Linked DNA regions of Homo sapiens: region 1 is linked to region 2. The links come from fine-mapping of genetic effects on gene expression. A gene starts in region 2. The other region holds a variant in brackets. All regions are shown on one strand. Distances are from middle to middle. Region 1 overlaps BRD7 (bromodomain containing 7). Region 2 holds the start of ADCY7 (adenylate cyclase 7).

What was found.
Region 1: its variant is fine-mapped to the expression of ADCY7 in whole blood (INTERVAL, PIP above 0.99).

Annotation. Positions count from the first base shown.
Region 1 is chr16:50,341,100-50,349,099 of GRCh38, reverse strand. All of the region lies in intron 5 of BRD7 (bromodomain containing 7), which reads left to right. Among named protein-coding and RNA genes, the nearest start is that of BRD7, 24 kb to the left of the region's middle. The variant A/G (reference allele first, on the strand shown) is at 4,429.
Region 2 is chr16:50,257,998-50,270,334 of GRCh38, reverse strand. ADCY7 (adenylate cyclase 7) reads right to left here and starts at 3,784. Exons shown (of 26, transcript NM_001114.5): 1 at 3,655-3,784. RefSeq lists enhancers at 4,012-4,101, 4,047-4,640, 5,708-5,887, 8,121-8,190.

The DNA of each region.
Region 1 (8,000 bases), 81 kb before region 2:
AGGACATGAACTCATCCTTTTTATGGCTGCATAGTATTCCATGGTGTATATGTGCCACATTTTCTTAATCCAGTCTATCATCGTTGGACATTTGGGTTGGTTCCAAGTCTTTGCTATTGTGAATAGTGCCACAATAAACATACGTGCGCATGTGTCTTTATAGCAGCATGATTTATAATCCTTTGGGTATATACCCAGTAATGGGATTGCTGGGTCAAATGCTATTTCTAGTTCTAGATCCTTGAGGAATCGCCACACTGTCTTCCACATGGTTGAACTAGTTTACAGTCCCACCAACAGTGTAAAAGTGTTCCTGTTTCTCCACATCCTTTCCAGCACCTGTTGTTTCCTGACTTTTTAATGATCACCGTTCTAACTGGTGTGAGATGGTATCTCATTGTGGTTTTGATTTGCATTTCTCCGACTGCCAGTGATGATGAGCATTTTTCACGTGTCTTCTGCATGAATGTCTTCTTTTGAGAAGTGTCTGTTCATATCCTTTGCCCACTTTTTGATGGGGTTGTTTGATTTTTTCTTGTAGATTTGTTTAAGTTCTTTGTAGATTCTGGATATTAGCCCTTTGTCAGATGGATAGACTGTGAAAATTTTCTCCCATTCTGTAGGTTGCCTGTTCACTCTGATGGTAGTTTCTTTTGCTGTGCAGAAGCTCTTTAGTTTAATGAGATCCCATTTGTCAATTTTGGCTTTTGTTGCCATTGCTTTTGGTGTTTTAGTCATGAAGTCCTTGCCCATGCCTATGTCCTGAATGGTATAGCCTAGGTTTTCTTCTAGGGTTTTTATGGTTTTAGGTCTAACATTTAAGTCTCTAATCCATCTTGAATTAATTTTTGTATAAGGTGTAAGGAAGGGATCCAGTTTCAGCTTTCTACATATGGCTAGCCAGTTTTCCCAGCACCATTTATTAAATAGGGAATTCTTTCTCCCTTTCTTGTTTTTGTCAGGTTTGTCAAAGATCAGATGGTTGTAGATGTGTGTTATTATTTCTGAGTGCTCTGTTCTGTTCCATTGTTCTCTGTCTCTGTTTTGGTACCAGTACCATGCTGTTTTGGTTACTGTAGTCTTGTAGTATAGTTTGAAGTCAGGTAGTGTGATGCCTCCAGCTTTGTTCTTTTGGCTTAGGATTGACTTGGCAATGCAGGCTCTTTTTTGGTTCCATATGAACTTTAAAGTAGTTTTTTCCAATTCTGTGAAGAAAGTCATTGGTAGCTTGATGGGGATGGCATTGAATCTATAAATTACCTTGGGCACTATGGCCATTTTCACGATATTGATTCTTCCTACCCATGAGCATGGAATGTTCTTCCATTTGTTTGTATCCTCTTTTATTTCATTGAGCAGTGGTTTATAGTTCTCCTTGAAGAGGTCCTTCACATCCCTTGTGAGTTGGATTCCTAGCTATTTTATTCTCTTTGAAGCAATTGTGAATGGGATTTCACTCATGATTTGGCTCTCTGTTTGTCTGTTATTGGTGTATAGGAATGCTTGTGATTTTTGTACATTGATTTTGTATCCTGAGACTTTGCTGAAGTTGCTTATCAGCTTAAGGAGATTTTGGGCTGAGACGATGGGGTTTTCTAAATATACAATCATGTCATCTGCAAACAGGGACAATTTGACTTCCTCTTTTCCTAATTGAATACCCTTTATTTCTTTCTCCTGCCTGATTGCCCTGGCCAGAACTTCCAACACTATGTTAAATAGGAGTGGTGAGAGAGGTCATCCCTGTCTTGTGCCAGTTTTCAAAGGGAATGCTTCCAGTTTTTGCCTTTCGGTATGATATTGGCTGTGGTTTTGTCATAAATAGCTCTTATTATTTTGAGATATGTCCTATCAATACCTAGTTTATTGAGAGGTTTTAGCATGAAGGGCTGTTGAATTTTGTCAAAGGCCTTTTCTGCATCTATTGAGATAATCATGTGGTTTTTGTCTTTGGTTCTGTTTATATGCTGGATTACGTTTATTGATTTGCATATATTGAACCAGCCTTGCCTCCCAGGGATGAAGCCAACTTGATCGTGGTGGATAAGCTTTTTGATGTGCTGCTGGATTTGGTTTGCCAGTATTTTATTGAGGATTTTTGCATCGATGTTCATCAGGGATATTGGTCTAAAATTCTCTTTTTTTGTTGTGTCTCTACCAGGCTTTGGTATCAGGATGATGCTGGCCTCATAAAATGAGTTAGGGAGGATTCCCTCTTTTTCTATTGATTGGAATAGTTTCAGAAGGAATAGTACCAGCTCCTCTTTGTACCTCTGGTAGAATTTGGCTGTGAATCCATCTAGTCTTGGACTTTTTTTGGTTGGTAGGCTATTGCCTCAATTTCAGAGCCTCTTATTGGTCTATTCAGGGATTCAGCTTCTTCCTGGTTTAGTCTTGGGAGGGTGTATGTATCCAGGAATTTATCCATTTCTTCTAGATTTTCTAGTTTATTTGCATGGAGGTGTTTATAGTATTCTCTGATGGTAGTTTCTATTTCTGTGGGATCAGTGGCGATATCCCCTTTATCATTTTTTATTGCATCTATTTGATTCTTCTCTGTTTTCTTCTTAGTCTTGCTAGTGGTCTATCAATTTTGTTGATCTTTTCAAAAAACCAGTTCCTGGATTCATTGATTTTTTTGAAGGGTTTTTTGTATCTCTATCTCCTTCAGTTCTGCTCTGATCTTAGTTATTTCTTGCCTTCTGCTAGGTTTTGAATGTGTTTGCTCTTGCTTCTCTAATTTTTTTAATTGTGATGTTAGGGTATCAATTTTAGATCTTTCCTGCCTTCTCTTGTGGGCATTTAGTGCTATAAATTTCCCTCTACACACTGCTTTAAATGTGTCCCAGAGATTCTGGTATGTTGTGTGTTTGTTCTCATTGGTTTCAAAGAACATCTTTATTTCTGCCTTCATTTCGTTATGTACCTGGTAGTCATTCAGGAGCAGGTTGTTCAGTTTCCATGTAGTTGAGCGGTTTTGAGTGAGTTTCTTAATCCTGAGTTCTAGTTTGATTGCACTGTGGTCTGAGAGACAGTTTGTTATAATTTCTGTTCTTTTACATTTACTGAGGAGTGCTTTACTTCCAACTGTGTGGTCAATTTTGGAATAAGTGCAGTGTGGTGCTGAGAAGAATGTATATTCTGTTGATTTAGGGTGGAGAGTTCTGTAGATGTCTATTAGGTCTGCTTGGTGCAGAGCTGAGTTCAATTCCTGGATATCCTTGTTAACTTTCTGTCTCGTCGATCTGTCTAATGTTGACAGTGGGGTGTTAAAGTTTTGCATTATTATTGCGTGTGAGTCTAAGTCTCTTTTTAGGTAACTCAGGACTTGCTTTATGAATCTGGGTGCTCCTGTATTGGGTGCATATATATTTAGGATAGTTAGCTCTTCTTGTTGAATTGATCCCTTTACCATTATGTAATGGCCTTCTTTGTCTCTTTTGATCTTTGTTGGTTTAAAGTCTGTTTTATCAGAGACTAGGATTGCAACCCCTGCCTTTTTCTGTTTTCCATTTGCTTGGTAGATCTTCCTCCATCCCTTTATTTTGAGCCTATGTGTGTCTCTGCACATGAGATGGGTTTCCTGAATACAGCACACTGATGGGTCTTGACTCTTTATCCAATTTGCTAGTCTGTGTCTTTTAATTGGAGCATTTAGCCCATTTACATTTAAGGTTAATATTGTTATGTGTGAATTTGATCCTGTCATTATGATGTTAGCTGGTTATTTTGCTCGTTAGTTGATGCAGTTTCTTTCTAGCCTTGATGGTCTTTACAATTTGGCCTGTTTTTGCAGTGGCTGGTACTGGTTATTCCTTTCCACGTTTAGTGCTTCCTTCAGAAGCTCTTGTAAGACAGGCCTGGTGATGACAAAATCTGTCAGCATTTGTTTGTCTGTAAAAGATTTTATTTCTCCTTCACTTATGAAGCTTAGTTTGGCTGGATATGAAATTCTGGGTTGAAAATTCTTTTCTTTAAGAATGTTGAATATTGGCTCCCACTCTCTTCTGGCTTATAGGGTTTCTGCTGAGAGATCTGCTGTTAGTCTGATGGGCTTCCCTTTGGTGGGTAACCTGACCTTTCTCTCTGGCTGCCCTTAACATTTTTTCCTTCATTTCAACTTTGGTGAATCTGACAATTATGTGTCTTGGAGTTGCTCTTCTCGAGGAGTATCTTTGTGGCATTCTCTGTATTTCCTGAATTTGAATATTGGCCTGCCTTGCTAGGTTGGGGAAGTTCTCCTGGATAATATCCTGAAGAGTGTTTTCCAACTTGGTTCCATTCTCCCCATCACTTTCAGGTACACCAATCAGATGTAGATTTGGCCTTTTCACATAGTCCAATATTTCTTGGAGGCTTTGTTCATTTCTTTTCACTCCTTTTCCTCTAAACTTCTCTTTTTGCTTCATTTCATTCATTTGATCTTCA[A/G]TCATTGATACCCTTTCTTCCACTTGATCAAATCGGCTACTGAAACTTGTGCATGCATCACGTAGTCCTCGTGCCATGATTTTCAGCTCCATCAGGTCAGTTAAGGTCTTCTCTACCCTATTTAATGTAGTTAGCCATTCGTCTAATCTTTTTTCAAGGTTTTTAGCTTCTTTGCAATGGGTTCAAACATCTTCCTTGAGCTCAGAGAAGTTTGTTATTACTGATCGTCTGAAGCATTCTTCTCTCAACTCATCAAAGTCTTTCTCCCTCCAGCTTTGTTCCGTTGCTGGCAAGGAGCTGCGTTCCTTTGGAGGAGAAGAGGTGCTCTGATTTGTAGAATTTTCAGCTTTTCCGCTCTGGTTTCTCCCCGTCTTTGTGGTTTTATGTACCTTTGGTCTTTGATGATGGTGACATACAGATGGAGTTTTGGTGCGGATGTCCTTTCTATTTGTTAGTTTTTCTTCTAACAGTCAGGACCCTCAGCTGCAGGTCTGTTGGAGTTTGCTGGGGGTCTACTCCAGACCCTGTTTGGGTATCACCAGCAGAGGCTGCAGAACAGCAAATATTGCAGAATGGTACATGTTGCTGCCCGATCCTTCCTCTGGAAGCTTCATCTCAGAGGGGCACCCAGCTGTATGAGGTGTCAGTTGGCCCCTACAGGGAGGTGCCTCCCAGTTAGGCTACTCGGGGGTCAGGGACTCACTTCAGGAGGTAGTCTGTCCGTTCTCAGATCTCAAACTCCATGCTGGCAGAACCACTACTCTCTTCAAAGCTGTCAGACAGGGACGTTTAAGTCTGCAGAAGTTTCTGCTGCCTTTTGTTCAGCTATGCCCTGCCCCCAGAGGTAGGCTCCACCCAGTTCGAGCTTCCCGGTGGCTTTGTTTACCTACTCAAGCCTCAGCAGTGGTGGGCGCCCCTCCCCCAGCCTCACTGCTGCCTTGCAGTTCAATCTCAGACTGCTGTGCTAACAGTGAGTGAGGCTCCGTGGGCATGGGACCCTCTGAGCCATGCGCGGGATATAATCTGGTGTGCCATTTGCAAAGACCATTGGAAAAGCACAGTATTAGGGTGGGAGTGTCCTGATTTTCCAGGTACAGTCTGTCACAGCTTCCCTTGGCTAGGAAAGGGAATTCCCCAACCCCTTGTGCTTCCTGAGTGAGGTGATTCCCTGCCCTGCTTCGGCTCACACTCTGTGGGCTGCACCCACTGTCCGACAAGCCCCAGTGAGATGAACCCAGTACCTCAGTTGGAAATGCAGAAATCACCAGTCTTCTGCATCACTCATGCTGGGAGCTGTAGACTGGATCTGTTCCTATTCGGCCACCTTGGAACCTATCACTACACACTTTCAAACAACCAGATCTTGTGAGGACTCATTATCACAAGAACAGCAAGGGGGATATCTGCCTCCATGATCAAATCACCTCCCACCAGGTCCTTCCCCCAACATTGGGGATTACAATTCAACATGAGATTGGGGTGGGGACAGAGAGCCAAACCATATCACATGTACTCTAAAGTAAAGAATAAATTGGCTTGTCCAGAAATACTAAAGAGAAGTTTAATTACATTTTCTAATTTGATGAAAGTTAATTGCTCTCTGAGTTCATTTTGGCTATATTTGTTGAGCATATTTTCTTCAGCTTTAAGAAGAGTATAGAAAATTTACAAGGACCTGAAAACTTATAATATATATACCTATTATAGATGAGGTTTTTCCCATTTGAGGGAGTGTCCTGGTGTGTGTTGATTCCAGGGAAAGGAACCATGTATATTAAAATTTACTATGTATTCAACCGCCACAAACTTAATTGGTTTAGATAATATCTGTTTTACCTCTACTTTGTTTTACATAACCACAGTAGTGCTCACCTGACCTATAAGGGTTAGACCCTAATTGGTTACCCTAATTAGTTATTTTCCTAAAAATAAAATAAGATAGTGTCTTTATGGCCAGGTGTGGTGGCTTACACCTGTAATCCCAGCACTTCCGGAGGCCGAGGCAGGTGGATCACAAGGTCAGGAGATCAAGACCATCCTGGGTAACACAGTGAAACCCCGTCTCTACTGAAAATACAAAAAAATTGGCTGAGTGTGGTGGCGGATGCCTGTAGTCCCAGCTACTCGGGAGGCTGAGGCCGGAGAATGGCGTGAACCCAGGAGGCAGAGCTTGCGACAGAGTGAGACTCCATCTCAAAAAAAAAAAAAAAAAAAAAGACAGTGTCTTTACTTAGTCCCTTTTTTCATCCACATATTGATAAGCAGAGATTTATGAAGAATATCAGTGTTTAGTGCTCTTTACTGTTGAGTTTATAGGTAATATTCCACTTTCTCCAAAGAATCTGAATTACATTCTCTCTTATTTCGAGAAATAGAAACTTTTCCCAACTTTTTATCTGGTGAAAATTAGGCTAAAACCGTTTATTTCAGCATATTTCTGACCTTACCATTGCTTAATGGGAAAGAATTTCACAGTTTTTTGTTTTTTGTTTTTTTTCTGCATGATTTTCCTCTGATCTTTCTCTTACAGTAAGAAGAGTAGAAGTGTGTCCCCAGAGTGTTTTTAAGCAGGTTAGGGTTTATCATAATTGAAAGGAATTGGTATCTTAGCTCTTTAGAATTTCTACGTTGCCACTTTTTTCTAGGGAAAGCTCAACGGCCTAAAGTAATATTTATTCAGTTCATTTGGCAGTTGAAGTAAAATGTGTGTGTGTGTGTGTGTGTGTGTGTGTGTGTGTGTGTGAAAAGTGTGCAGGAAGACTCAGCTTTTTGAATGACCAGTGCCATCACCCACAGTTCAGTAAAGCCCAGCACATTATGTTAAGATTTAAGGAATCTACAAATTGGCTTAATAGATCAGTCCTGTGTTCATTAGAACAATTCAGTACTCTTGCCAGTTCATAGGCCCATTATCTGGCCAATTATAGGCCAAATGGTCACTTAGTTTGAGTATATATAGTAATCTAGTATCTCCGTTCACTTGCGTCCCATCCCCCCAAATACATATTTAATTTTTTTTTTTTTTTTTTGAGACCGAGTCTCACTCTGTTGCTCAGGCTGGAGTGCAGTGGCATGATCTTGGCTCACTGCAACCTCCACGTTCAGGGTTCAAGCAATTGTTGTGCCTCAGCCTCCCAAGTAGCTGGGACTACAGGGGTGTGTCACCACACCCAGCTAATTTTTTTGTATTTTTAGTAGAGACGGGGTTTCACCATGTTGCCCTGACCAGTCTCAAACTCCTGGGCTCAAGCAGTCCACCTGCCTCGGCCTCCCAAAGTGCTAGAATTATAAGGGTGAGCCACTATGCCCAGCCTAGTAATTCTTAATGGCCTGGAAGCTTTTCCAAATATCTGTAACAAAGGTCTTTAATCTAGGGTCCTTTGGATACCATAATGAGCCTTTAGAGGGACCAAGAACCTACTAAAATTACATGAAGACTTTTGTGTTCAGCTGTGTGTGTGTGTGTGTGTGTGTGTGTGTGTGTGTGTGTGTGTACTTAAGGTCTGGTCCCATAGCTTTCATCAGATGCTTAGAGATCCAAGACCTGGCATATTTACAGTCATGGCCCAAAC
Region 2 (12,337 bases):
AACCTCTGGAAGACCCCTGCTTCTCTGGCTGGTGTTCAGATGTGGTCTCATTCTCCAGTTCCAACTAACTTCCAGCTCTTGGCTACATGTGTCTATCTATCTGTTTATCTATCTATCTATCTATCTATCTATCTATCTATCTATCTATCTATCTATCTGAGACAGGGTCTTGCTCTATTACCCAGAGTGGAGTACAGTGGCATGATCTCAGCTCACTGCAGCCTCCACCTCCTGGGCTCAAGCAATCCTCCTGCGTAGCTGGGACTACAGGCATGCACCACCATGCTGGCTAATATTTGTAATTTTTTCCTAGAGTTGGGGTTGTGCCATGTTGCCTAGGCTGGTCTCAAACTCTTGAGCTCAAGTGATCCGCCCACTTCAGCCTCCCAAAGCGCTGGGACTGCAGGTGTGAACCACGGTGCCTGGCCACACGTGTCTTTTAAAAGTAGTAAATGCCTCCCTCCCACCCCATGAAAGGCTAGAATGGGCTGCTCTGATACAGGCATCCACTGTGACCCACTCTGCATGCTCCCTCAAAGGCCTGGAACTTTCTCCAGCGGAGTTAAGCGCTGCTCTCTCCCTGGGCAGTGGGAGAGGTAGGAGAGAGGATGCTGTGTCACCTCAGTATGAACAAGTCCACATCCTCTTCCTCCAGGACAGCAGGAGGGAGGCAAGGAGCGGTGCTGAGGGTCAGGCCACCCAGCCACCTCTGTGACCCTTGCAATGACAGGGAGTGGACAAACCACCTACCTCCTGGCTAAGGCATGACCCAACCACACATCCAGGAAAGCACGTGAGACAGCCCACCCTGGCCCAGCCACGCAGAAGGCCTCGTCCTACCTCTTCTCTCCCGCAGTGGGCCCAGCGAAGTCCAGGCACAGGGCAGGGTAGGGGAGGCCCTCACAGGAGCCCAATTCCTCATCTTCCCAGTAAGGACCACCCCCACGAATCCCTCAGCACCAACCAGAGCCCCTGTTCTCAGCTTTGCCCCATCTGATCTCGCCAAAGACACAGTGTGCTGGCCCTGACTCCAGGCTCAAATGTGGCAGCAGACCACACTGTGGTGGGCACAACTGGATGCCTGAGGACCGATCTGCTGGGTTATTCAGGATAGACAGCCCCTCTGGGCCCTGTCTCCTCTGTAAACTGGAGGTGAACGGCACCTACCATATGGAGCGGTGGAGGAGGTGGGGAATGGGTCAAATCAGTAGCTATAAATTGTAGAGTGGGGTGCATGTCCCCAGTGCAACCATCGAGTCGGACTTTTGTCTCTTTTGAAAAATTTATTTATTTTGAGACAGGGTCTCATTCCGTCACCCAGGCTGGATGGAGTGCAGTGGCACAGTCATGGCTCACTACAGCCTCCAACTCCTGGGCTCAAAGGATCCTCCTGCCTTAGCCTCCCAAGTAGCTGGGACTACAGGCACACGCCACCACACCCAGCTAATTTTTGTATTTTTTGTAGAGACGGGGTTTCGCCATGTTGCCCAGGCTGGTCTCGAACCCCTGGGCTCAAGTGATCCGCCCACCTTGGCCTCCCAAAGTGCTGGGATCTTTTCTCCTTTTGAGACTCTCCTGTGGCCTGTCCAGAGGCCACACTCCAGCCCAATTTCTACTTCCTGAGCTCTCCCTACACCAACCTCCATGCCCTCAAGCAAACCTCCCAGACCTACTCCTGGCAAAGATGTTCTGCAATACCACCTTCACCCTCATCACCCGGAAAACAGCTGCTAGTAAACAGCTGCTTCTTTCATGAAAACAGCACTAGAAGGCTGGGCGTCGGGCTCATGCTTGTAATCCCAGCACTTTAGAAGGCTGAGGCGGTAAGATTGCCTGAGCTCATGAGTTCAAGGTTGCAGTGAGCTATGACCACTCCACTGCACTCCAGCATGGGTGACAGAGTGAGATCCTGTCTTAAAAAAAGAAAAGAGGCTGGGGGTGGTGGCTCACACCTATAATCCCAGCACTTTGGGAGGTCGAGGTGGATGGATCATTTGAGGTCAGGAGTTTGAGACCAGCCTGGCCACCATGGTGAAACCCCGTCTTTACTTTACTAAAAATACAAAAATTAGCCAGGTGTAGTGGTGTGGTAACTGTAGTCCCAGCTACTCAGGAGGCTGAGGGAGGAGGACGGCTTAAGCCCAGGAGGCAAAGGTTACAGTGACCCAAGAGGGTCACTACTGCACTCCAGCCTGGGCAACAGACAGAGACTCCATCTCAAAAAATAATAATAAATAAAAATAAGAAAGAAAGAAAATACCACCGGAGACGCTACCTCCACAAAGCTCACACCTGCCCTTCTGAGGGCCACAGAATCTGGAACAATCTGAGAGCCTCCCCTCCCCCACACTCTGCACCAGGAGCTGCAGGTAAACCTTGGGAACCCAGGGCCTCTGGAGGTGGGAAGACAGACAACTGGGTGGGAAGCGAAGGCTGTGCAGCAAACGCCTTCCTGAGCTGCAGCCCCCTCAGCCTCCTGCACTTCCTGCAGGGCTGGCACTTGGCACTTCCTCTCAAATTGGCTGGCTTGTCACTTTTATGTCTCCTTTGGCCTCGTCTAAGACAATAATACAGTCATGATGTCACAATGGCAATGTCCTATTTACAGATTTTTTTTTCCCCAAGACAAATACTTAGATTTTAAACATGTCCTTCCACACACAGGCTAGAACCCCCTGTGATTCCCTGGGCAGCCCGGTCCTCACTCCGAGAAACACTGGTGTTGAGTCCACCCCTCACAGCCTCCATCTGCAAGATGGTGATGCTAGTGAAGGCCCACGGTCACATAGCCCTTCCAGACACATCCAGCCCACACTGGCTGCCCGTCCAGGCCTTGGACCCAGGGCCCCTGTCGTAGGTGGCTCGGCCTGGCCCCTACCTCCAGGCCCTTGGCTTCCCCCTCCCGGCCCTCCCTTCTCCTCTCCAGCAATGGCTGTCCAGGGAGGAAGCCCCCAGCCACAGATGTCCCTGCCCTTGACCCTGATGTGATGACACAGAGAAGAGGCAACTGCCTCACCCTCTGTACATACATGTTTAGATGAATGCATAGAAAGCTCCAGAAAGACCCGCTCCAGAAAGACCCACTCCAGATGGCCCATGCGGTCCCTGGGGGATAGAGGAGAGGCATTGCAGGGAAAGGGAAACCAGTCTGCTTTTTGGAGGCATCTTGGTTTCCTGACCCTCAGGCATGCACTCCTTTCAGAGGTTTTGTTTGTTTTTTGTTTTATAATTTCATAAAATTAGTTGAATTGGCCTTCCCTTGCCAATGTTTCCTTTCATTGAGAAAAGTCATGTGTGCTTGTAAATGTAAAATTACACCCTCGAGAAGGAGTGTGGACATTTGAGAGTCTGTGGTTCCTAGAATTCCAGATGGAACGGGCCACATGTACAACATTGTGGTCACAACCGCACTTTCTTGTCAGGCTGGGAAAAGCCAGTGACAAGTCGCCTCTGGTCCCCTGTTGAAGGGCCGCCTCTCCCAGCCATCTGCCCAGTAGGCTCACGGAGCCTCCTACTCCCCCAGCCCAGACCCTGCCCAGTGCACTCCCAGGCCAGGCTGCCGGGTGAGCTGCTTCCCACCCACTGTCCAGCCCCGTCCCCTGGGGCTCAAGCCACTAGGACTGGTGACACTCCATCCCCACACCCCACTTTTACCTGGCTCTCCTCCCCGGCCCCAGCAGCCGGCCAGGGTCTGCAGGGAGGTGGCCCGGCCCCCGCCTGCCCTTCCTCAGACGCGCCCAGGCTCACCCATCCGAAGGCTCCTTCCACGCTACCTAATGAGAGTGAGTCACATCTGGGACCCACCACTTCCTGCTCCGGCAGCGGCAGCAGCGGCGGCGGCGGCAGCAAGGCTAAGGCACAGCCCACAGCCCAGCCTCTCGGGGTGTGCAGGGCCCCCTCCCCCAGCCACAGTGCTGCTCTCCGCAGCCTGGGAGCTGCCAGGCCTGGGAGCTGTCGGGCTCCAATGACTTCATGGAAATTTGAAGCTTGAAGCTGGAACAATTTTGAAAAAATAATAATAAAACAAGCACCAAAAACCTCCATTAGAAGCCCCAAGACAACTGTTCAAAGTGGGGAGCAAATGCATCCTTAGTGAGCAATTAGCAATTAGCGGCCTGGCCTGAGCCTCCTGTGGGCTCTGACGCTCACAGACAGGCCCCCCGCGCCTTCCTGGGACTCAATTTCCCTATCTATGTAGTAAGGTGGCCCCGTCCACCTCTGAGAGGGGCCCAGGAGAGGTCAAAGATCTTCCAGCCCAGCCCACTGCCTCTCCATCTCACCTACGCTCCCATGCTGGGAGCAGGGCAGGGGCAGGCCCATCCTTGGGGCTCCTATTCCAAAATCAGAGTCCCTGGAGAGCCCCCAACATCCCTGGGCACCATGAGGCTGGGAATCAAACCCCAGCACCCCTTCTGCTATGCCAGGCCTCAGTTTCCCCACTGGGATCATGGGGCGCTCAGTGGCGAGGGAGCAGATCAGGAGAGGCTAAGAGGAGAGAGTGGAGACTCCCAAAACAGAGGGGGAGGCCTCCAGCCCGCTGGCCACAGCAGCACCTGGTCCTCAGGGAGCCCTTCTGAGCATGTGACTGGCATCCTGGGATTACGAGCTCCTCAAAGCAATGGTGTACCTCCTCCACCTCCCACATCCAGGGTCAGACACCCCTCTTCTGGTCTTCTAACCCCTGCACCTTCCTCCATCACAGCACCTCTGTGCTGTGACCACTGGTTGCTGGTCTGTCTTTCCTAGGTTATATCCTTGAGGAGGGCAGAGATGGGAGGGCAGCTGTAATATCAACAGCTGTGTCCCCAGCGTCCAGCCCCAGCTGGTCACAGAGTAGACATCCCACACATACTGATCAGGAGGAACTGAACATGTTAGGTGCTGTCTCTGTGCCAGGCCCCATGCAGGGAACTAGCAGGTGATCTAAGGTCTGCCATCTGGTGGAGACAGGCATAGGACTCACACAGGGTTCCAGGCTGCTCCAGAGGCCACAGGAGGGAGTGGGAGACCTCAGGGGATCCTCCCCATCAGGGTCGCCCTCCTATCAGCAAATGTCTCCCTAGCAAATGTCCCAGAGCAGAGAAGGAACAGACATCATCATCATCAAAAGAGGGGAAAGACAAGCCACTGACTAGGAGAAAGTCACATCCTATATGACTGACAAAAGACTCCTCCCTAGCATATATAAAGATCTCCCAGGCTTGGCATGGTGGCTCATGCCTGTAATCCCAGCACTTTGGGAGGCTAAGGTGGGCGGATCACCTGATGTCAGGAGTTTGAAACCAGCCTGGCTAACATGGCAAAATCCCGTTTCTACTAAAAGCACAAAAATTAGCCAGGCGTGGTGGCATGAGCCTGTAATCCCAGCTACTTGGGAGGCTGAGGCAGGAGAATCACTTGAACCTGGGAGGCAGAGGTTGCAGTGAGCCGAGATCACACCACTGCACTCCAGCCTGGGCAACAGAGTGAGACTCTGTCTCAGAAAAAAAAAAAAAAAAAAAGACCTCCCACAAACCAATAAGAAAAAGACAAATGGCCCAATTAAAAGATGAACAAGAGACTTACACAGGTACTTCAACAAAGAGGATGCCAAAATGACCAATAAGCACATGAAAAAGATACTCAACATCATTAGCCACCAGCAAATTAAAACCATATAGAGATTCCACTGTACCACTAGAATGGCTAAAATTAAAATGAAAATACCAAGTGTTGACAAGGAGGAGAAGCAGCTCTTCACTCTCATGTACTGCTAGTGGGAATGTAAAATGGAGCCACCATGATGAAAACTGCCTGGCAGTGTGGACAAAAGCAAACCATATGCTTCCCCAATGACTCAGCAATTCAATCTCAGGTATTTACCCAAAAGAAATGAGTACATGTGTCCACAAATGACTTCTATCCAAGTGTTCAGAGAAGCTTTCATCCTAACAGTCAAACTGCAAACCCAAACATCCTGCAATGAGTAAATGGATAAACAAATTTTCATATATTCACACAACAGAAAATTACTCAGCAGTAAAAAGGAACAGATCACTGCTAACACACAACATGAATGAATATCCAAGATGGCAAGGACAGTGAAAGACCCACCCACAAAAGACACATTCAGCACGTTTCCATTTATATGAAACTTCAGAAATGATGAAACTAATCTACAGTGACAGACAGCAAGACAGCGGTTGCCTCTAGGGAGGCCGCTGATTGGAAAGGGGCACACAGGAAACTTCTGGGGGCTGAGGAGGTTCTAAATCTCCCTGTGGGTGCTGGTTATACAGGCGAGTGCCTAAGTACACTCATTACCCTGTACATTGAAGGTTTGTGCACTTGCCTGTATGTAAATTACCCGTCCATTTTTAAATGGGTATTGAGGGATACCCGTTTGCGTATGCAGGAGGGCATGGTGCTGGATGCTCAGTAGATTCAGGAAAAAGAACAGATCTGACCTGGCCCAGTGGGCGAGAGGCTGATGAGACACATGCTCAAACCCTGAGGAAAGCGCGGCGTGGAGATGGAGCCGCTGGGGGAGATATCGGGGGCCAAGGGGAAGGGGCATAGGAGGCAGGGCAAGTCCAGGGGAATGGCAGGTGGGGAGCGACCCACCCTGACCAACATTTCTGCAAGATGATCTCGGCTTGAGAAAAGGGGCAGCTTGGAGAGGACACATGTAGATGCCTGGACACAGGAGGGGGGTTCCCCACTGCCTGCTGGGAGCTTATGGGGCCCTGGGCTTTCCAGCACCGGCCATAGAGCAGGGAGTGTGTGAAGATAAACTGGCCATACAGCAGAGGCTGTATGATAACAAACCCTGCAGTTTGATAATGAGAGGGGCACAGTAAACCCTGCCGTTTGATAATCAAGGTTCCTGTCCCACTGAGCAATACCTCCTGCCCTCCCAGGCTGCCCGCCCAGCTTTCTCCTTGGAAGATGTGGCGGTGAGTCTCTTCCCTGCTGCAGCCTCAGCACTGCCTCAAACCAGCTGCTCCCCGCAGCCGCAGCCACCAGCCACCACTTGACACCCCACCCCTCACGCTGTCTAGGAGGTCCCGGCAGGCAGGATCTGAGCACACACAGGTCAATGCTCCCTGGGATCCACACAGGCATCACCCAGGACTTTACACACACAGCCTCATGGCACTCCCTGGCAGCCCCACTGAGGAAGGCCCTGCTATCATCCCTCTGTAGAATAAGGCACCAAGGCTCAGAGACACCACATTGCTGGCCCAAGCACACACAGCTATGAAAAGGCAGAGCCAGGATTCAAGCTCAGATCTACCTGACTTCACAACCCATGCTCCTGACCCTCCCTGGGAACAAGGACAAGCTTCCATAGGGACAGGCTACCCCTAACCCCATTACAAGGTAATGAGCATGGTGAGTACCCTCACCCAAGATCTCCCAGCCCTGGCACACAGTGCTCCCAAGTGTGCTGAACAAACACCCGCTTTCTTTCAACTCCCCCAAAGAAGGGCAACCTTGGGCTTTCACAGTAGCAGACAGGGAAGGCTGGTTTCTGCTTGGTAGAGGCGCCAGGGCACACAGCACAACCCCAATCCTTTCCTGTCCCTCTCAGCAACCCCCATCCTCTTCCCTGGTGCTAGGGACACAAAACTGACTTGGACATAGTTCCCTTTCATGCAAGTTCCTAGGCTGGGAGGAGGTAAGAGGTGCCCATCAAAGGCATGGCATAAAGCTCTGGGGAGAAGCCGGCAGGGCATGGTGGCTCACACCTGTAATCCCAGTACTTTGGGAGGCTGAGGAGGGTGGATCACTTGAGGCCAGGAGTTCGAGACCAGCCTGGCCAACATGGTGAAACCCCGTCTCTAATAAAAATACAAAAATTAGCCGGGCTTGAGGGCAGGCGCCTGAATCCCAGCTACGCAGGAGGCTGAGGTGGGAGGAATACAAAAATTAGCCAGGCATTGTGGCGGGCACCTGAATCCCAGCTACTCGGGAGGCTGAGGTGGGAGGATCGCTTGAGCCTAGGAAGCAAAGGTTGCAGTAAGCTGAGATCACACCACTGCACTCCAGCCTGGGTGACAAAGTGAGACCCTGTCTCAAAAAAAAAAAAAAAGAGATCTGAGGAGAAGTACCCAGCAGGGTCCAGGCATATGTGGCCCAGAGTTTAGGGGAGAAGGACTTCCTACCCTGGGCAACAATGGGGGCTCAAGATGAGGCCATGAAACAGTCAGTAGGAGAGACTCAAACTGCAGCCAAAACGAAGCAGACAGTCAAGCTGTCAGTCAGCCAAGGGACAAATAACACTGAGTGCTGAGCAAACAGCTTGGCCCTGCCACACAAACCTAGATGTCGAGCCCTTACTGGGGGAAGGAAAGCCCCAGCACCCAGTGGGCTTGGAACTCTGGGCACGTCTCTGTAGGGGCCAGGGGATATGAGAACAAAAACCACCGTCCATGCCACAGTCACCTCTTCCTTCCCCTAAGGTCGGGGGTTCACGGCACCGGGAGGAGCCCTGGGAGGGTCTGAGCAATTGGGCTGGCCACTTGTCGCCAACCTCGCCTATCGTCCTGGCAGGATGAAGAGGAGCCTTCAGGAAGGTCCTGCTATTATTCCTGTCTGAGAGCTCTGGAGTCAGGGGCTCCAGGGAGAGACTTTGGCGGAGCTAGGGGACCCTGGTGGCTCAGGGAGTCCCTCTGTAAAGTCAGGAGATGTGGCCCACTCTGCTGGGAGCCCGTGGGGGGCTGTGAGAAATGCCGACAAGGCACATGGTGGGTGCTGGGTGCAAGCCAGCAGGGAGGAGGCCAGCCAGGCGTTCTCCCCGCTCTAAACCCTAAATCCCTAGGCTCTGCGACGTGCCTGCCCCTCCTTCAAACAACTTCCATGGCTTGCCTGTGCCTCCAGAGGCAAGTCCTGCCTCCTCCTCCTGCCTCTCGGGGACCCCCACCTGGCCCAACTCACTTTTCCATCCTTATCTGCCTCCACCTGCTACCCAGCTGCCTGACTCTTCCATTTCTTTGCTCAGGCCTTAGTGTCCCTGGAATGCTCAAAATGCTACCCATCCCGCCAGGTACTGGTGCCGCCTCTACCAGGAAGCCTTCCCCAGTGCCCCACCATCACCTCCTCTAGGCCACAATGCCATAGACCTCTCCACAGAGGATGTCATGTCCACTTTTGGTAACAGCTCCCTGTTCCTATGGGGAACCAGCCCTGCAGGGGTGGACTCACAACTAGCGTATATGGAGGAATGGGTGTGAGACTCAGGTGGTCCTGTGAAATTCACTTCCAGGACTTTTGTTGGGACTGTGGGAAAGTGTTCTCATTCACTTGGCAGTAGGTGTGAGCTACGAGCCACTGGGGCCATCTTTGCCACAGTGGCAGTCAGCCTCCAGTGACCCTTGTCCCCTGGCACTCATGTCTGTGAATGGTCCCCTCCCACACCACCTGTGTGACCAATAAAATATCGTGGAAACCACAATATGCGGCTTCTGAGATCATGAAAGATCTCAGAAGCTTCCACTCAGCTTTCCTTTGGATCTCTCCCTCTAGGGGAAGCCAGACACCATGGCTCGAGGACACTCAAGCAGCCCCAAGGAGGGATCTGTGTTCGAGGAACGGAGGCCTCCCGCCAGCAGCCAGCACCAACCCACCCTGCATGTGACAAAGCTGCCTTGGAGGCAGACCCTCCAGCCCCAGTCAAGCCTTCAGATGACTGCAGCTTGACAGGCAGCTTGATTGCAACCTCATCAGAGAACCCCAGCCAGAAGCACCCAGCTCAGCCTGAACTCCTGACCTACAGAAATTATGAGGTAATTGGAATAATTTGTTACACAGCAATAGATTACAAATACAACCTCTCTGTGGAAGAACTGGCCTGAAAAGGAAGCCAAGACAGAGAAATGGAGAGAGAAGCAGAGTCTTCATGATACCATTTGAGCCCCTGGATCCAGCCATGCCTGAATCCCCACAAAGTCTCAAGTCCTCTCTTTCTCCCTTTCCCTTTGGTTACAGTGGGTTTCTGGTACTTGCAGCTCAAAGAACCTGAACTTATTCATGCAGCACCCTCCCTGCTCAGGAGTGACTGAAGGTCCTGTCTTCTCCTCCATCAGACCCATCTGGCTGAGGGCAAGGACCACCTCTCCCCAGCACCACAGGACCTCACGACATTTCTGCCAGATTGACCTGTACCCAGATACTCCCAACAATAACACAGTGCAGCCAGCCGTGTGAGCGTCCCCTCCTGCTCACCCTACGTGGGAGGACAGAGCAGGGCTGACTCCGTGTGGTTTCACGCCCCCCAGCTCTTCCACACTTGGGACTGAGGTGAGCTCCCCAGGGAGAGGGACTCGCAGAGGCAGCACAGCTCGATGGAGACACTCCCCCTCCTCCCAGATGCATCTTTCACGCTGGGAGGCGGGGAACATTCCAGTGCATCCACCCACCTCCTCCAGGCCTCTGCCCACATCTCTTCTCAGCTGTGGGCTCAGGGATGTGCAGGGATCTGTTCCTGTGCAGGCTAGGAACATAAGAAAATGCCCGGGTCCACTAGCGCCTTCTGACCCCTAATCAGTGGTGGTCCTAAGGGGTGGCCTGGGGTAAGCCCCAAAGCCACTCCAAATGAACACATATTCTAAGTAAACAGCATCTTTCCCATTAAACCCGGCACCCTGCGGCTACTGCCCCTCCTAAATCGCTGCTGCTTGGCTGAGTTCCAATGCCACAACAAGGAAAGATGAACAGCCCGACTTCATGTAAGCGACAAAGCCCACTCAAGGGCAGGGGCCTGACTCCCATGATCCCCAGGGCCCCGATCTCTGCCACGCCTGGGAGACGGGGCTTTGGAGAAGGAAAGGGGCAGCTGGGGTCATGGTGTGTTGAGTAACAGCAGAGAATCCTAAAAGAACAGATGTGAAAGCAACCGCCCTGCCAACCAAAAGCCCTTATTTCCTTTGAAAAACTTGGCAGCTGGGCCGCACCAGAGGCCGCCTGTCCTTCCCTGCACCCGGCCCAGTGTGACCCATGGACAGGCAGGGAGGAAGGCCATGTCCCTCCCACCAGATCCTCAAAGGGGGCTTCAGACATACCACAAATTGAAAATAGCAGCTCCTAGAACTGCATGTGAAGTGTGACCCCTTTCTTTTTTAACGATGTCACAGGGATGCCTGTATTTTTTTGCATACAAGAAAATCGGGAAGAAAATGTCCCAAATCTTAGGAGTTATCACTAGGTGATAGAATTTGGCACAGTTTTATTTTAATATTTATCTTTTTGTTTAGATCTGCTTTTCAATTTTTCTCTAATGAAAATATACTACCCAAATAATTAACAGAGGAGGAAAACCAGCTACAATCAAGAAAAAGCAAGAAAAAGGAAAAACAATGCCCTGAGATGGGTAGTTTTCCACCCAACACCAAACTAGGCACCACTTGTAACAGGGTGAATACGGAAGGTTTTTACTGTAACTAAAAATACTACCTTAAGGGTTGGGCGTGGTGGCTCATGCTTGTAATTCCAGCACTTTGGGAGACCAAGACAGGGAGATCAGGAGGATCGCTTGAGCCCAGGAGTTCAAGACCAGCCGGCGCAACAGAGTGAAACCTCATCTCTACAAAAAAAATTAGCCTGAGCTGGTGGTGGGCACCTGTGGTCCCAGCTACTTGGGAGGCTGAGATAGGAGGATTGCTTGAGCCTGGAGGTCAAGGCTGCAGTGAGCTATAATTGAGCCACTGCACTCTAGCCTGGGAGACAGAGAGGGACCATGTTTCAAAAAAAAAAAAAAAATACTACCTTAAAGTCATTGAATATCAATGACTGCCAGTATTACAAAAGGAAATTCACCAGACCACGTGCCTCCCAGAAATTTCCAATAGCATCTCCAATGTGCTGTTGTGTGAAAAAAATCAAAACTGAATTAGATCAAGCCTCTGGATACAACTATGAATTTATAGGATTCAGGGGACAAGGAGCATGCTACACATTATAGGAAGCTCTCCTACAGGTAAAGGGACCCAGCTTCAACAAAAACACCACATGGAAGACAGAGAGAATGAGTACCAGTCCTACAGATGAAAAACTGAAGAAACATATCACAGTCTCATCATGCAGACCTCATTCGGATCCTGATTATTATTATTTTTTAAAGAGACAGGGGCTCTCTCTGTCACCCAGGCTGGAGTGCAGTGGCGCAGTCATAGCTCACTGCAGCCTCCAGCTCCCAACCTCAAGTAATCCTCCTGCCTCAGCCTCTCGAGTAGCTTGGAGGTTACATTACAAGTGCATGCCACCATGCCTGGCTCTGGATCCTGATTTTAAAAAGCTAATATTAACATATAGGCCAGGCACGGTGGCTCACGTCCCTAATCCCAGCACCTTGGGAGGC